Linked DNA regions of Homo sapiens. The protein of the gene in region 1 interacts with the protein of each later gene in a biochemical or structural test. Each region holds a gene or a part of one and is shown on either strand. Other genes may lie near its edges.

Region 1 (7,854 bases):
AGTGGCACGATCTCGGCTCACTGCAACCTCCACCTTCCAGGTTCAAGCACTTCTCTTGCCTCAGCCTCCTGAGTAGCTGGGACTACAGGCATGTGTCACCATGCCCAGCTAATTTTTGTATTTTTAGTAGAGATGGGATTTCACCATGTTGGCCAGGATGGTCTCAAACTCTTGACCTCATGATCCACCCGCCCCGGCCTCCCAAAGTGTTGGGATTACACGCGTGAGCCACCATGACTGGCCCAAAAAATGATCTACGCTTAAACATGTTCCTCTATTCTAAAACTTTGCAACCGTTTTAATTCTCCCCAAGGGATCCTGGATGTTCTTAAGAGGTGATAAAGAATGGAGCTTGCTGGGTGGGCACAGTGGCTGACACCTGTAATCCAAGCACTTGGAAGGTCGAGGCAGGCGAATCACCTGAGGTCAGGAGTTCGTGACCAGTCTGGCCAACATGGTGAAACACCATCTCTACTAAAAATACAAAAAATTAGCCAGCCGTGATAGGGCGCACCTGTGGTTCCAGCTACTCGGGAGACTGAGGCAAGAGAATCGCCTGCGTCTGGGAGGCAGAGGTTGCAGTAAGCTGAGATCACGCCACTGCACTCCAGTCTGGGTGACACAGGGAGACTCCATCTCAAAAAAAAAAAAAAAAAAGAATGGAGCAGTTAACAAAAAATTTCCTTCTACAAACACATAGTATTCTTAAATGTTAACACCCTCCTTGACCTCTCTTAACCGTCACTCTTTCCTTACTGTCCAAAACAATGAATAACTGCCTCTTTCCTTATATCCCACTTCCCACTCCCAGGCCCCACAAAGGAAACAGGTTTCAACAAGATTGAAATTCTAGAACAGTTTTTGGAGTTGGCAGTAGAGACAGACACTATGAATGAAGTGCAGATTGTTTCTGTTTTCACTAATGGACAATGCAAGTGAGTATCTAATTGAGGTGTGGTAGAAAAGTGGGTGTTTTTGGCAGAGGGAGAAGCAAGATCTCAGCATACTGGAAGTAAGGATAAAAGGGGAGAATTGTAAAAGTTAGACTTCTCCTAATTTCACTTATTTTCCATAAAAGAAATTTCATTATTAGCACAGGTTTGGAATAACCTCCTTTATCTTTTGGGCCTCATTTTCTTCATCTCTAAAATGCTGATACCAATAATACCTTCATCTCACAAAGTTATTGTGAGGATTAAATAACACTTTTCATGGTCTGGGATGGTTGCTATTTTTTTTAAAAAGAAAAAAGATAACACATGCAAAGCTAATAGCACAATGCCTGGCACATATAATAAAAAATGTTAGCTTAAGGCCAGGCGCGGTGGCTCATGCCTGTATTACCAGCACTTTGGGAGGCCGAGGCGACCCGATCACGAGGTCAGGAGATGGAGACCATCCTGGCCAACATGGTGAAATCCCTACTCTACTAAAAATACAAAAATTAGCCAGGCGTGGTGGTGCGTGCCTGTAATCCCAGCTACTCGGGAGGCTGAGGCAGGAGAATCGCTGGAACCAGGGAGTCGGAGGTTGCAGTGAGCCGAGACTGCACCATTGCACTCCAGCTTGGGCGACAGGGCGAGATTCCGTCTCAAAAAAAAAAAAAAGTTAGCTTAAAAGAAACCCGAAAGATGTAGTATCCTTGCTTTCATTCAGAAACATACATAGTTGTTTTAGGTTTTACTGTAAAGTGGTATGTTTAAGTTTACGCAATCCATTCATCAAACATTTCAACTTGGAAATTAAAGGCTACTTTGGAATACTGTTTTAATTAAAATCAAAGCAACAGGGGGAAAAGTTTTATGCTAAATATAACTTCATTGAAAAAGTATTCAGGAATCGTTGTACTGATAAAATGATTATCTTGATTAAAATGATGCAAATTCAACTGCAGTCATATGCAGCTATTTCTTTCAAAATTGTCACCATTTGTTCTTTTTTTCTGACACTACAATACTCTGCTTTCATTAAAAGCCAGTAAGGCGGCACTGCTTCTTCAATATCAAAACCTTTTGGAAACCTTGGTTCAGAGGAAGCTGCACACTCTTCACAGTGCTAGAAAGGATCAGTGTGGTCACTCTAGGACAAATGTCACTGTCATCAACACGTCTGGGTGTCTCATAGTGACCTGGGTCATGCAGAAGTGTGGGGGAAGGCTGGTGTCTGAAACAAAGTCGACAGCTACAGTGCCCTGAAAGGGGAGAGGTTTTAAGAATACTAGAAGATGAGGCTCCGACCTACGGGAAAGCAGTCTCCCGGGGCATATCAATTCCGGGGGTGCACCGTCCCCTCCCGCAGAAAAGGGACGCAGGTGTTGCCCTCCCCCGGCGACCCCACCGCCTTCTTCCCGGCGCCGCCGCCCCCTCCCCCAGCCCCCTAGTTACCTTTCTCATCCTCATCGATGCGCAGGGCAATGGAGATGTACTCGAAGGCCTGTTTGTGGAAGACTCGGACGCGCTCGGCCTCGCCGCCCGGCACCGGCGCCGGGGCCGAGGCCGAGGCAGGTGCTGGCGCGGCCCCGGAGCTCCTCTTGGCTGCCATGAGGGCGCGGGAGAAGCGCTGGCAGAGCCACACGAAGAGGAGCCCCAGGTGGAAGGCGACCAAACGCAGCAGCGCGAAGCCTACAAACAGCGGGTAGGAGAAATAGTACAGGTTCCGCTTATGCGGCGACTCGGGCGGAGGGGCCGGCCCGGCGGCGGGAGGGGCGGGGGCCAGGCAAGGGGGCGGAGGCCTGGGAGGCACCGGGTTGCTGGCGCCGCCGGAGCCTTTCTTCTTCCCTCGTCCACCCGGAGAATTCATTCACAGCTCTCACTGCCGCCGCCGCCATAACCCGCCTCCCGCAGACCGACGGGAACCAAGCGACGGCGGCAGCCACTGCTACGGCGGGGGCCACAGACCCCCGTGTGCCCGCCGGTCTCAGGAGCTCCGCACTGCCGCACGCTGCCCGCCGGCCCCGCCCCTTTCTCCTTCCTCGGCCAGGAGCACAACCCCTTCTCCTCCTGCAGTCGGTGGCTCGGGCCCCTCCCTTCCTGTCGCTGTCCTCTCCGCCGCCTGGTGGCTCCCAGCGGCGGCCGCGCACGCGCACGTCTTCCCGTGTTTTTCTCCGGCGCGCGCGCGCACGGCGCGTCTTTGTTGACCGGGGCCCCTGTACGCGTGTGCGGCCCCCGCCTCTCGGCTTTCCCACTCAACTACAGTTCCCAATGTGCAGTTCGGCTCACGTCGGCAGCCCTGGAGAGCTCCTGCCAGGAAGCCTTCGTAATCGATCCACGGAAGGGGGAATTGCGGCTTGGGGTCGCTCTGCTGGTTCGCTAGGCTCCTCTCTCAGTGTCGTCGTTTTCTTAGATTTCTTTCATCTTTTTCTGCCAGGCGACCTAAGTCTTCTCCGAAGGATAATTGGCCCATCTCAGAAGCAATGGATATCAATCTGGGAATTAAATTAGCCGGGCGTGGGGGCGCGCGCCTGTAGTCCCAGCTGGTTGGAAGGCTAAGGCCGGAGAATCGCTTGAACTCGGGAGGCAGAGGCTGCAAGTGAGCTGAGATCGCGCCACTGCACTCCAGCCTGGGCGACAGAGCGAGACTCCGTCTCCAGAAAAAATAAAATAAAAATTTAAAATCTGGGAATTATTTGAGAGGAAAGCAATTGTGAAGATAAGAAACTTCAGGTCACTGCAAACAACAGCAACAAAAATGTTAGCTCAGTGTGATGAGATCAACTAACCCAGGGGTTTAACTAAATTAGTGCATATTTAGATGTCTAATATGAAAGATAATTTATTTGAATAAGGGAAATCTTAGGTTTTGCATAGTTACCATCCCATAGTTTACTGAAGAATCTACACTTTTTTTTTAATCTACTCAGCATCCCTTCCTTTGGGAAACTACCTGCTTGTCTCTGCTCCCTGTATTCTAATGAGCTGCAAGCACAGAACCCAGACCGCAAAGGCGGAAGCAAACACTAGGTCAGTCAGATTCTCCTGGGACCTGGAATCTTGGCTGGAGACCCACCGAATAGAAAGTAACTGGAAACGAGTGCTCTTAAGAGCGGGTTTATCAATGCATCACATTGAGCTCCCCCAGAGCTGCTGGGTTCCTGACTGGTCACTTGGTTATGTAATCTATCCAATACACTAATCAGTCTGTTTCTCTGTTTCTCTCTTCCTCTCTCCTTTCCCCCTTCCTTCCTTTCGTCTTTTCCTCTCTCTCCCTCTCTCTCTATCTCCACGTCTTTTTTCTCTTCTCTTTCTCTTTTTACTTGAGTTAGCCATAATTATTTCTTGTTTCCTAAAACTAAGGAAGCCAAACTGATAAAAAGACTCCGTTATTTACAATGTGAGGTTTCCAAATGCCCCATGAGAGCTTCCAGCTTCCAAGAATCTCCACATTCTGCCACAGCTTTATTTTTTTATTTTTTGGACAGGGTTTCACTCCATTGCCCAGGCTGGAGTGCAGTGGCGCAAACAACATGACTCACTGCAACCTCCACCTCCCTGGCTCAGGTGATCCTTCCACCTCAGCCTCCCGAGTAGCTGGGATCACAGGCACACGCCACTGGGCCCGACTAATTTTTGTATTCTTTATAGAGCCAGGGTTTCACCATGTTGCCCAGGCTGGTCTCCAACTCCTGGGCTCAAGCAATCCGCCTGCCTCAGCCTTCCAAAGTGTTGGGATTACAGGCATGAGCCACCCCATCGCGCCCCCAGCTAATTTTTTTACTTTTTTGTTGAGACAGGGTCTTGCTATGTTTCCCAGGTTGGTCTTGAATTCCTGGGCTCAAGCAACCTGCCCGCCTCGGCCTCCCAAAGTGCTGGGATTACAGGCATGAGCCACAGCACCAGCCAATTTTACTTAATTATTCCCCGCCAGTACTGCCCTACAAATGTCACAGGCTATTGCAAAAATGACCTACTCCCTGTTTCCCTCTTATTGCTCCCCCTTCTCTGTGCTTATGCTAGACCCTCATTCTGAAATGCCCTCTTTCGGCCGGGTGTGGTGGCTCACGCCTGTAATCCCAGAACTTTGGGAGCCGAGGCGAGCAGATCACCGGAGGTCAGGAGTTCAAGAGCAGCCTGGCTAACATGGCAAAACTCCCTCTATACTAAAAATACAAAAGTTAGACAGGTGCATTCCTGTGGTGGTGGTGCATTCCTGTAATCTCAACTAGTGCGAGGCTGAGGCAGGAGAATCACTTGAACCTGGGAGGCTGAGGCCGCGGTGAGCCAAGATCATGCCAATGCACTGCAGCCTGGGCGACAGAGCGAGACTCTGTCTCAAAAGCAAACAACAAAAAATTTTTTTTAATGAAATGCCCTCTTTTAAATCTGATTCAGGGCCTGGCACGGTGGCTCACACCTGTAATCCCAACACTTTGGGAGGCCAAGGCAGGCGGATCACCTGAGGTCGGGAGTTCGAGACCAGCCTGACCAACATGGAGAAACCCTTTCTCTATTAAAAATACAAAACTAGCCGGGCATGGTGGCGCATGCCTGTAATCCCAGCTACTCGGGAGGCTGAGGCAGGAGAATCACTTGAACCCAGGAAGTGGAGGTTGCAGTGAGCCAAGATAGTGCCATTGCACTCCAGCCTGGGCAACAAGAGCGAAACTCCATCTCAAAAAAAAAAATTACATTTATACATATATCATATAAACAAGAAGTGTGTTACTTAAATGCACAATTTAAAGAAAAATAATAAGCAGCATTCCATTTAAGAAAAATGAATGTAACCAACTCCTCGAAGCACTCTGTGAGCTCCTCCCTAATCTCAATGTCTTGTCTCTTCCTCTAGAGGAAGCCACTATCCTGAATTTTATATTAATCATTCTAGTGTCTCATTTTTAGTTTGCAGTGTATTTATGTATTTCTAAACAATGTCTTGTATGATTTTGCCTCACTTTGACTTTATGGAAATGTAATCATATTTCAAGTATCCCTTGTTTGCTTTCCCTCCTCAAAATTTTTAAAATTTCATTTATTTTATTTTAAGAAAATAGAGATGGAGTCTCACTGTTGCCCAGGTTGATCTCGAACCCCTGGGCTCAAGTAATCCTCCTGTCTTGGTCTCCCAAAGTGCTGGGATTACAGGCATAAACCGCTATGCCTGGCTACCTACTTAATAATTAAGTGTTGAAATTCCTCCCTGTTGATTTCTATAACTGTGGTACATTTTCACTGCTATATAGTATTCCATTATATGAATTTACCACAACCTATTTTACTGTTCAACTATTGATGGATATTTAGTTTGATGCCAGTTTTTTTTCTTAAATAACTATCTTCCCTGTTATCCCTCCAGTCTTTACCACTAAAGAAAGTAACTTACTTTCTAACTTAGCCAAGATAGGGCCCAATAGTAGAATGGTTAAATGGTCCTGGAGTCAGACTGGTTGCATTTAGATCTGTGTTCCATCACTTTCGGTGATCTTGGATGAGTTACTCAGCTTCCACATCTACAGTATAACACTAGAGTAGTAAGCAGTGCCTGGAATCAAGTTGATACTTGATTATTTTTTTATTTTTTGTTTTTTTTAATTTTTTTAAATTATCTATTTTTTGTTTTAAAAGTTCTTTTGTAGAGACAAGGTCTCTCTCACCGTGTTGCCCAAGCCAGTTTTGAACTCCAGCCCTCAAGCAATCCTCCCACTTCAGCCTTCCAAAGTGCTAGGATTACAGGCATGAGCCACCATGTTCAGTTTATTTCTATTTTTATTTTATTTTTTACTCACCATGATACTAACAAGGAGATTTGTTGGTTTTTTGTTTTTGTTTTTGTTTTTGAGACAAGGTCTCACTCTGTCACCCAAGCTGGAGTACAGTGGCGCCATCAGAGCTCACTGCAGCCTTGACCTCCCTGGCTCAAACCACCCTCTTGCCTCAGCCTCCTGAGTAACTGGGACTACAGGCATGCACCACCATGCTGGGGTAGTTTTTTTTAAAATTTATTTATTTTTTAAGATGGAGTCTCGCTCTGTCGCCAGACTGGAGTGCAGTGGTGCGATCTCGGCTCACTGCAACCTCCGACTCCCTGGTTCAAGCGATTCTCCTGCCTCAGCCTCCCGAGTAGCTGGGATTACAGGGATGTGCCACCATGCCCAGCTAATTTTGTATTTTTAATAGAGATGGGGTTTCTCCATGTTGTCCAGGAGGGTCTTGATCTCCTGACCTCGTGATCCGCCCGCCTCAGCCTACCAAAGTTCTGGGATTACAGGTGTGAGCCACTGCATCTGTCTGAATTTTTTGTTTTTTAGTTGAGATGAGGTCTCACTATGTTGCCCCAGATGGTCTTGAATTCCTGAGCTCAAGTGATCCACTCACCTTGACCTCCCAAAATGCTGGGATTACAGGCATGAGCCACTATGCTTGGCCATGAGGAAGATAGTTTTTGAATAAAGAATGGTTCTCCGACATTTCCTCTGCACTTTCACTATACTCTAGCTAATATAGACTGTTGGTCTGTACCTACTTTGCTCTTTTCCAGGACTACAATTACTCTCCTGTCATTTTTCATTCACTTAGAATGGCCTCGCCTCCTACTTCCACTGTCAAAGTCCTTCAAGACTTACCTCTAATGTTATATTTTTTTTTTTTTTTTTTTTTTTGAGACTGAGTCTCACTCTGTCACCCAGGCTGGAGTGCCATGGCACGATCTCAGCTCAATGCAACCTCTGCTTCCCATGTTCAAGTGGTTCTCCTGCCTCAGCCTCCTGAGTAGCTGCGACTACAGACGCGTGCCACCACGCCCGGCTAATTTCTTGTATTTTTAGTAGAGACGGGTTCATCGTGTTAGCCAGGATGGTCTCGAACTCCTGACCTTGTGATCCACCTTCCTTGGCCTCCCAAAGTGCTGGGATTACAGGTG
Region 2 (7,272 bases), on another chromosome or scaffold:
GAGGCTTCCTAAAGAATGGTACATTCATATACCTTTAGTTTATACTTCTTAAGGAACACTAGAAAGTGACTTCACTACATATTTTTTTCCCCAATCCCCAAAGTCCCATATAATAAATGTATGTGCTTTTTTCCTGTTGTTACGTACAAAACAAACAGAGAAAACACAACAATTCTTTCTTTCCAAATGAGAATCTCTTTGGTTTCTTATTAGCCATGTGACTCTCTTGGCTCTCCTTTGCCATGACCATTTGGATCTTTTGGAGTATATAACTTTCTGTGCTTTTCTACTCTTAAAGGAAACTGGTGGTGACAAAAGAGAAAGAGAAGAAAGTGGGGCTGTATACGATCTATGTGAATCCTGCCAATACCCACCAGTTTGCAGTGGGTGGACGAGATCAGTTTGTAAGGTGAGTTTGTGGCTCTTTTGTGTCTTTGACAGTTTGTAAGACTGATGCATTGTATACTACCAGGTGCTCCTTTATGGAGAGTTACGAATTTTATAGGAATCCATTAACTATTATCTTGAATTTTTTACCGTTTTCCAAAAATCTTACACGCCTTTGGAGATGTTCTGTTCTCTAATGTAACAGTCTCTGAGGGGTGACTTTACATATTTTAGAGATTATCAAGTTTTAAAGAAGTTAGATGATGGTCAGGTGTAGTGGCTCACACCTGTAATCTCGACACTTTGGGAGGTGAGGCGGGTGGATCACCTAAGGACAGGAGTTTGGGACCAGCCTGGCCAACATGGCAAAACTCTGTCTCTAAAAAAAAAAATACAAAAATTAGCCAGGCATGGTGGTACATGCGTGTAGTCCCAGCTGCTCAAGAGGCTGAGGCAGGAGGATCACTTGAGCTCAGGAGTCAGAGGTTGCAATGAGCCAAGATTGTGCCACTGCACTCCAGCCTGAATGACAGAGCGAGACTCTGTCTCAAAAAAGAAAAGAAAAGAAGTTAGATGAATTGACCAAGGTCCTCACGTGGCAGCTAAGCCATAAATTTAGGTTTACCAGCAAGTACTATATTAGTAAATAATCTACCTTTTTCGTATGTAAATAAACGTGCACTAGAAATTTTAAATACTGGTTTTCAATTCAGAAATAGTTTGACTTGGGAGCACTTAGTGTGAACTGAGGGTTTTTTGGCTCTCACTGTCCTGAGCTACCACTTTTTTTTATCCATAGTGATATCTTTGTTACCGTGAACACCTTTTGTTAACACTGGCTCTTGAGACATGACCTAAGGAAAACAGACACTGTGGATTCAGTCTCCATATGTATTAGTTAATTTCCTCTGACCCTTAGTAATAAGCTGTATCCATCCCTATCCAGTTGGCCTATTTTAACTATGTTTCTTTGGGCTCATCAGTTTGAAAGGAGAGAGAGGGGCAAGATCACTAGAAAAATGAGTGACTTTTTGCTTTCCTAATGGTAAGTGAAAAGCATCATCTTCCTTTTGAAATGAGAGCACATTTTATAGCTATATTTCCAGATTCATTTTATTAATAAGAATCATGGGGAATAGGGTAAATTTTTAGAAAATACATGAGATGACTTTGCCTTGTTCAAGAATCCTGGACAAAACCTTGTTTCTCTCTTCTTCCCCTATTCCCATGCCTTCAAAATTCGTTTCCTCTAGTCACCAACAGTCCTTAAATGTGTAGCCATAGATTTTTTTTTTTAGACAGAGTTTTACTCTTATTACCCATGCTGGAGTGCAGTGACACAATCTTGGCTCACTGCAACCTCCGCTTCCCGGGTTCAAGCGATTCTCCTGCCTCAGCCTCCCGAGTAGCTGGGATTACAGGTGCACGCCACCACGCCTGGCTAATTTTTTGTATTTTCAGTAGAACCGAGGTCTCACCGTGTTAGCCAGGCTAGTCTCGAACTCCTGACCTCAGGTGATCTGCCCGCCTTGGCCTCCCAAAGTGCTGGGATTGCAGGCATGAGCCACTGTGCCTGGCCAATTTTTTTTATTTTTAAATAAGAAGCTGTTGATCAAAAAGGGTTGTAGTTTGTATAGATTTTCAGTTGCTACCTCCTCCAAGTTGAGCATTCACTGAAATTTTGAGTTGAGAGTTCCTACTTAGAGCTCCAGATTACTTGAAAAGTCTGTGTCTCTAACAAATTCCACCACTAGGACCAAGATGTTTGGAGGGGAATGTAGTAGTTTGCTGTATTGAGAACTGTATTCATATGTATGTATGTATTCATATGTATTCATATGATATGTATATCATATTGCCTTAACCCAAAGCTGATACTTTCCCAGGGTTAGAGTAAGGCTTAGAGTTTTAGCATTTCAACACAAGGAGAAATACTCAAATCTTCTGTGTCTTATCAGCCTCAATATTCCTCTATTGGCTATTTACTGGGCAGAAGTTATGTGAAGATTTTTGTTTTTTTTTTGAGACAGAGTCTCACTTTGTTGCCCAGGCTGGAGTGTAGTGGCTCGATCTCGGCTCACTGCAACCTCTGCCTCCTGGGTTCAAGTGATTCTCATGCCTCAGCCTCCCAAGTAGCTGGGATTACAGGCATGTGCCACTTTGCCTGGCTATTTTTGTATTTTTAGTAGAGATACGGTTTTGCCATGTTGGCCAGGCTGGTCTCGAACTGTCTTCAAGTGATCCACCCACCTCGGCCTCTCAAAGTGCTGGGATTACAGTCGTGAGCCACCGCGCCTGGCTATGTGAAGATTTTGAGGCACGCTGATCCTACACAAGCAGGTAGCCCTTTCAGCACTCCAGCTCTTCTCTGACATTAGGTTACACTCAACTTCTCTGGCACCTCTCCTGTGCAGCCAACTGAATGTTTTGAGGTTTCTCCTTTCTTATTCTTCCTTTGAAAGAACCCAAACAGCTCATCTTCTGGTATAAATTTGAAAACATTTTTGCTGAATATTATATATCATAACATCATTAACTTTCACTCCTAGCCTAAAGGAATTACTTCAAGGGAATATAGAGAAATAGCTTACTGATCCTCAAGGCTTTTGCATCATTAATACTGAATTTTAGTTTAGGGTTATTAAAAAGTATTTAAGGGAAGCTCTGGGGAGACATGCTTTTTGGCCTGTGGCCAAAAAAAAAAAAAAGGTAAGTAGAGGAGGTATAGGTGTGAGTCCCTACTACACCTGCTAAGCTAAGCTAATTCCTGCTTAGCTTAGTTTTAAGAATTTATAGGGGTAAAGAAAAAGAGAATATATCAGGTGAATCCTTTAGTGGTAAATTTGGCTGACATGAAAATTTATTGCTAAAGGATTAAGTATAGGCCCTGATTGATGAAGCACAGTCAGTAAATCATCTCTTCATTCCCCAGTTCTTAAGCCAACATCAGCAACACTGAGAGAACATTAGATTAAAGGCAGGTATAGAAGAGAGACTTAGGGTAACAAGTTAGTGGGTGCCTGAAGGCATGTGGGAAGAGATGTGGTAAAGGTGTGCACACTATTCCTTACGTGACTTAAAATGTCAAGGGGCTTGGTGTGGTGGCTCATGACTATAAAACTAGAGCACTTTGGAAGGCCAAAGCTGGAGGATAGCTTGAGGTCAGAAGTTCAAGGCCAACTTGGGCAATATAGCAAGACTGTGTCTCTACCAAAAAAAAAAAAAATTAAGAAAAAATTTTAATTTTTTAATTAATTAAATATCTCCAGGTGTGGTGGTATGCTCCTGTAGTCCCAACTACTTGGGAGGCAGAGGAGGATCTCTTGAGCCCAGGAGTTTGAGGCTACAGTGAGCTGTGATTACACCACTGCACTCCATCCTGGATGACAGAGTGAGACCCTGTCTCAAAAAAAATAACTAAAAGTAAAATATAAACTATCAAGGGCCTATCATATGTTCAGAAAGTGGTAGGAAAGTTTGTATTAATCTTTCTATGCTTACTGTCTATCACAGGGCTTGACAAACTGTAGTGCTTGTTTTTATAAATAAAGTTTTATTGGAACACAGCCATGGCCTTACTTTACATGTTGTTTATGACCACTTTCATGCTACAATGGCAGAATTCAATAGTTTTAATAGAGATTAGATGGTTTGCCAGTTTACCAGCTTAAAACATTTACTGTCTTGTCCTTTAAGAAAAAGTTTGCCAAACTCCGTTCTAGCATCATATGTAGAATATAGTAAGCTATTAATAAACACTTAGTTGGGGTGTAGTGGCTTATACCTGTAATCCCAGCACTTTGGGAGGCTGAGGCAGGAGAATCTTTTGAGGCCAGGAGTTTGAGACCAAGCTGGGCAGATGCTGTCTCCACCAAAAAATAAAAATATTAGCTCAGCATGGTGGTGTGTGCCTGTAGTCCCAGCTACGCGGCAGGTTGAGGCGGGAGGATCGTGTGAGCTGGGGATGTCAAGGCTTAAGTCATCAGTAACCTAACTGCCAAAGCAAACAAAGTACTTTTCAAGTCTTTTTCTCTACTCTTGACATTATTACTCCTTCCCTGAAGCACCTTCTCTCCTTGATGTCCAACCACTCCTCAGTGTTGTTCATGGGTGTGTCTTCCTTTCTCCACCCATTAAATGCTGATGTTCTCCAGTAGCTCAGTCTTCAGCTCTCATCTTACTCTATACCAGGGAATTTTAACTTGAAGTACAAATATTATGTGAACCTCCAGAAAGTATGCTTATGTGCATTTTTCTGGGGAGAAGGGACTAGAGTTTTCATTATATTCTGAAACAGGCCAGAGATTCTAAAGGGCGAAGGGAAAATCTTCTCTGTATTTTCCCTTGGAGATCTAATTCCATTACCAATGCTTTAACTACCACCTTTCACACGGATATATGACTTACATCTGTGTCTGCAGACCACACTTATTCTGAACTCTAGACTTACACCTACTTAACAAATGGATATAATTAACTGATGACTTCAGCCAGAGAAGTCTCAGTGGTGAGTTGAGAACCAAAACCAGATTAGGATGGACTGAGAAGTGAATAGGAAGTAAGAAAGTGGAAATATTGAATGTTGATTGTTCTTTTCAGTAGTGTAACTGTAAGGGGAAGGAGAAAAAAAGCAATAGTAGGAAAGGACAGTCAGCAGAAGGATTTTTAGAAAGTGGCCAGCTGGTGATGAGGAAGAGGTTGAGAAATTAGATAATCATCAAACAAGGTCCCTGGAAGGATGAAATGAAAAGCATTTTTCAAGAGATTGGCTCTGAGATTGGAGGAGACTGGGTGAGAACAGATACTGGATCTGTCTTGTTCCTCACTGTATTTCTAGCACCTAGCATAATATTTGACACATAATATGTGTGTCCTCATGAGTTTAAAGCTTGGATTAGAGAGAGGAAGGAAGGTGAAGGTGTAGTGTGCTTGATAAGAATGAGGAAAGGAGAGGGAGTCTTGAGGATATGGGTGGTAGTTTTTAATAATTATTGTGGGGTATGAGAGGGAGAACAGGCCAAATACAGTTTTAAGGAGGGATTACAGACCCATTGACTTACATTAAGCATGGTTTCTGCCCGTGAGTAACCTTTTTCGGTAGGTAATGTACATGTAAAAAGCTCCATACTAATGTTAGTTGTTTCAGTGAAAAGTAGCAGTATGTGATATAAAACTTGAGGAGAGAGATAAACCACTTCAAACTGACAGAATTGAGGATTGCCACTTAAAATGGGAAGTATGTGGATAAAGGATTTAAGGGTTTGCCTGGCCAACAGATGAAACTCTGTCTCTACTAAAAATACAAAAATTGGCCGGGCGTGGTGGTGTGTGCCCATAGTCCCAGCTATTTAGGAGGCTGAGGCAAGAGAATTGCTTGAACCCATGAGGCGGAGGTTGCAGTGAGCCGGGGTCATGCCACTGCACTACAGCCTGGGTGACAGAGCAGGACCCCATCTCAAACAAACAAAAGATTTAGGGTTTGGAAATGGATTGGAAAAGGGATGCCCTTTAAGGAAGAGCACAAACCAAAAGCTTGGTTTGGAAAATGTTGTTTATCTGCATCCAGCTGGCAGTTTCCTGCCACTACATCAAATTGCAGCTCTTCAAGGGTTTCGTTTGTACATTTTTACATTTTCATTGCTTTTCCAACTGTAGGATTTATGACCAGAGGAAAATTGATGAGAATGAGAACAATGGAGTACTCAAGAAGTTCTGTCCTCATCACCTGGTAAGATTCATGAAGGGCCAGTTGCTGCAGGCTTCCCTGACTCAACCCCAAGGCTGCACCTGAACTTGTTGGTATGGTGGGAAGAGCTTGGACTTTCAAGTCAGTCATCTGGATTTGAATCCTGGCTTTACCACTTACCAGCTTTGTGATCTTGGCAGTCACTTCACTTCTGATAGCCTCAGTTTTTTAATCGACAAAATAGAAATAAAAATAACTGCCTTGCACCTTGATGGTGAGGCCTAATGAGACAGTGTACATAAAATGGCTAGCACATGGATGACAACCAAAAGAAAGCCCCAAGATGCTACCCCCTGAGGTGGTCATGTTTCATCAGTTGTACTCTTGTCTCTGTCTGTCTTTCTCAAATCTCTGGGAGAAGATATAGGGGAGTTTGAAGGAAAAGCTGTTTCCTGAAGATGGTATAACAAATGGGGGGGTGGGGCATCAGTCAGTATCTGCTCCTTATTGCAGGTGAACAGTGAGTCCAAAGCAAACATCACCTGTCTTGTGTACAGCCACGACGGCACAGGTACGTGAGCAGGGCCCAGCTCCTAGGCTGGCATGCCCCCTCTGTCTAGGGAGCTGCTGAGCCAGTGAGGCATGTGCCCTCCAGTGCTCACCACTGTGCTATAGCTCCAAGTAGAGCAGCTGGGGAGTAACTGCTGATGGTGAGCACATAGCGGGAGGATACAGTAGATGACCCTTGGAGATGCCAGGTACCATTTGCAGAATGCTGCAGATGATATTTGGCAGGGCCTGTCCTGAAGCCCAGGTTGCTTGCCTGAGCAGGTTCTTATGCCTTTGACTCATTCCTGAGTTAATGGGTATGACCTTTTTGAGCATTCTGCTGCCCCTGGGTTGGCAGTGTGTTCTTAGTCTACCCTGTACAGTCGGACTTGCCTGGTGTTCCAAATAAGATGGGTGCTACACCTGGGTATTTGGAGGGGGCACTACTGGCAAGAAGCCCCACCCCAACCCCCACCTCCTGGTCCCTGCTTTTTTCAGCCTTTGCCTTCACTGCTATGTTCTTGTTCTTGGCAGAGCTCCTGGCCAGTTACAATGATGAAGACATTTACCTCTTCAACTCCTCTCACAGTGATGGGGCCCAGTATGTTAAGAGATACAAGGGCCACAGAAATAATGCCACAGGTGAGACT

What was found.
Region 2: the proteins of SPAST (region 1) and DCAF8 form a complex in vitro, tested with the Homo sapiens proteins (one study listed by BioGRID and IntAct).

The regions. Positions count from the first base shown.
Region 1 is NC_000002.12:32,058,777-32,066,630, reverse strand, and holds the start of SPAST (spastin), read right to left. Parts: upstream 3,076-7,854; 5' UTR 2,800-3,075; coding exon 2,385-2,799; intron 1-2,384. UniProt on the Homo sapiens protein: ATP-dependent microtubule severing protein that specifically recognizes and cuts microtubules that are polyglutamylated.
Region 2 is NC_000001.11:160,224,434-160,231,705, reverse strand, and holds part of DCAF8 (DDB1- and CUL4-associated factor 8), read left to right. Parts: intron 1-298; coding exon 299-409; intron 410-6,042; coding exon 6,043-6,115; intron 6,116-6,586; coding exon 6,587-6,644; intron 6,645-7,156; coding exon 7,157-7,264; intron 7,265-7,272. UniProt on the Homo sapiens protein: May function as a substrate receptor for CUL4-DDB1 E3 ubiquitin-protein ligase complex.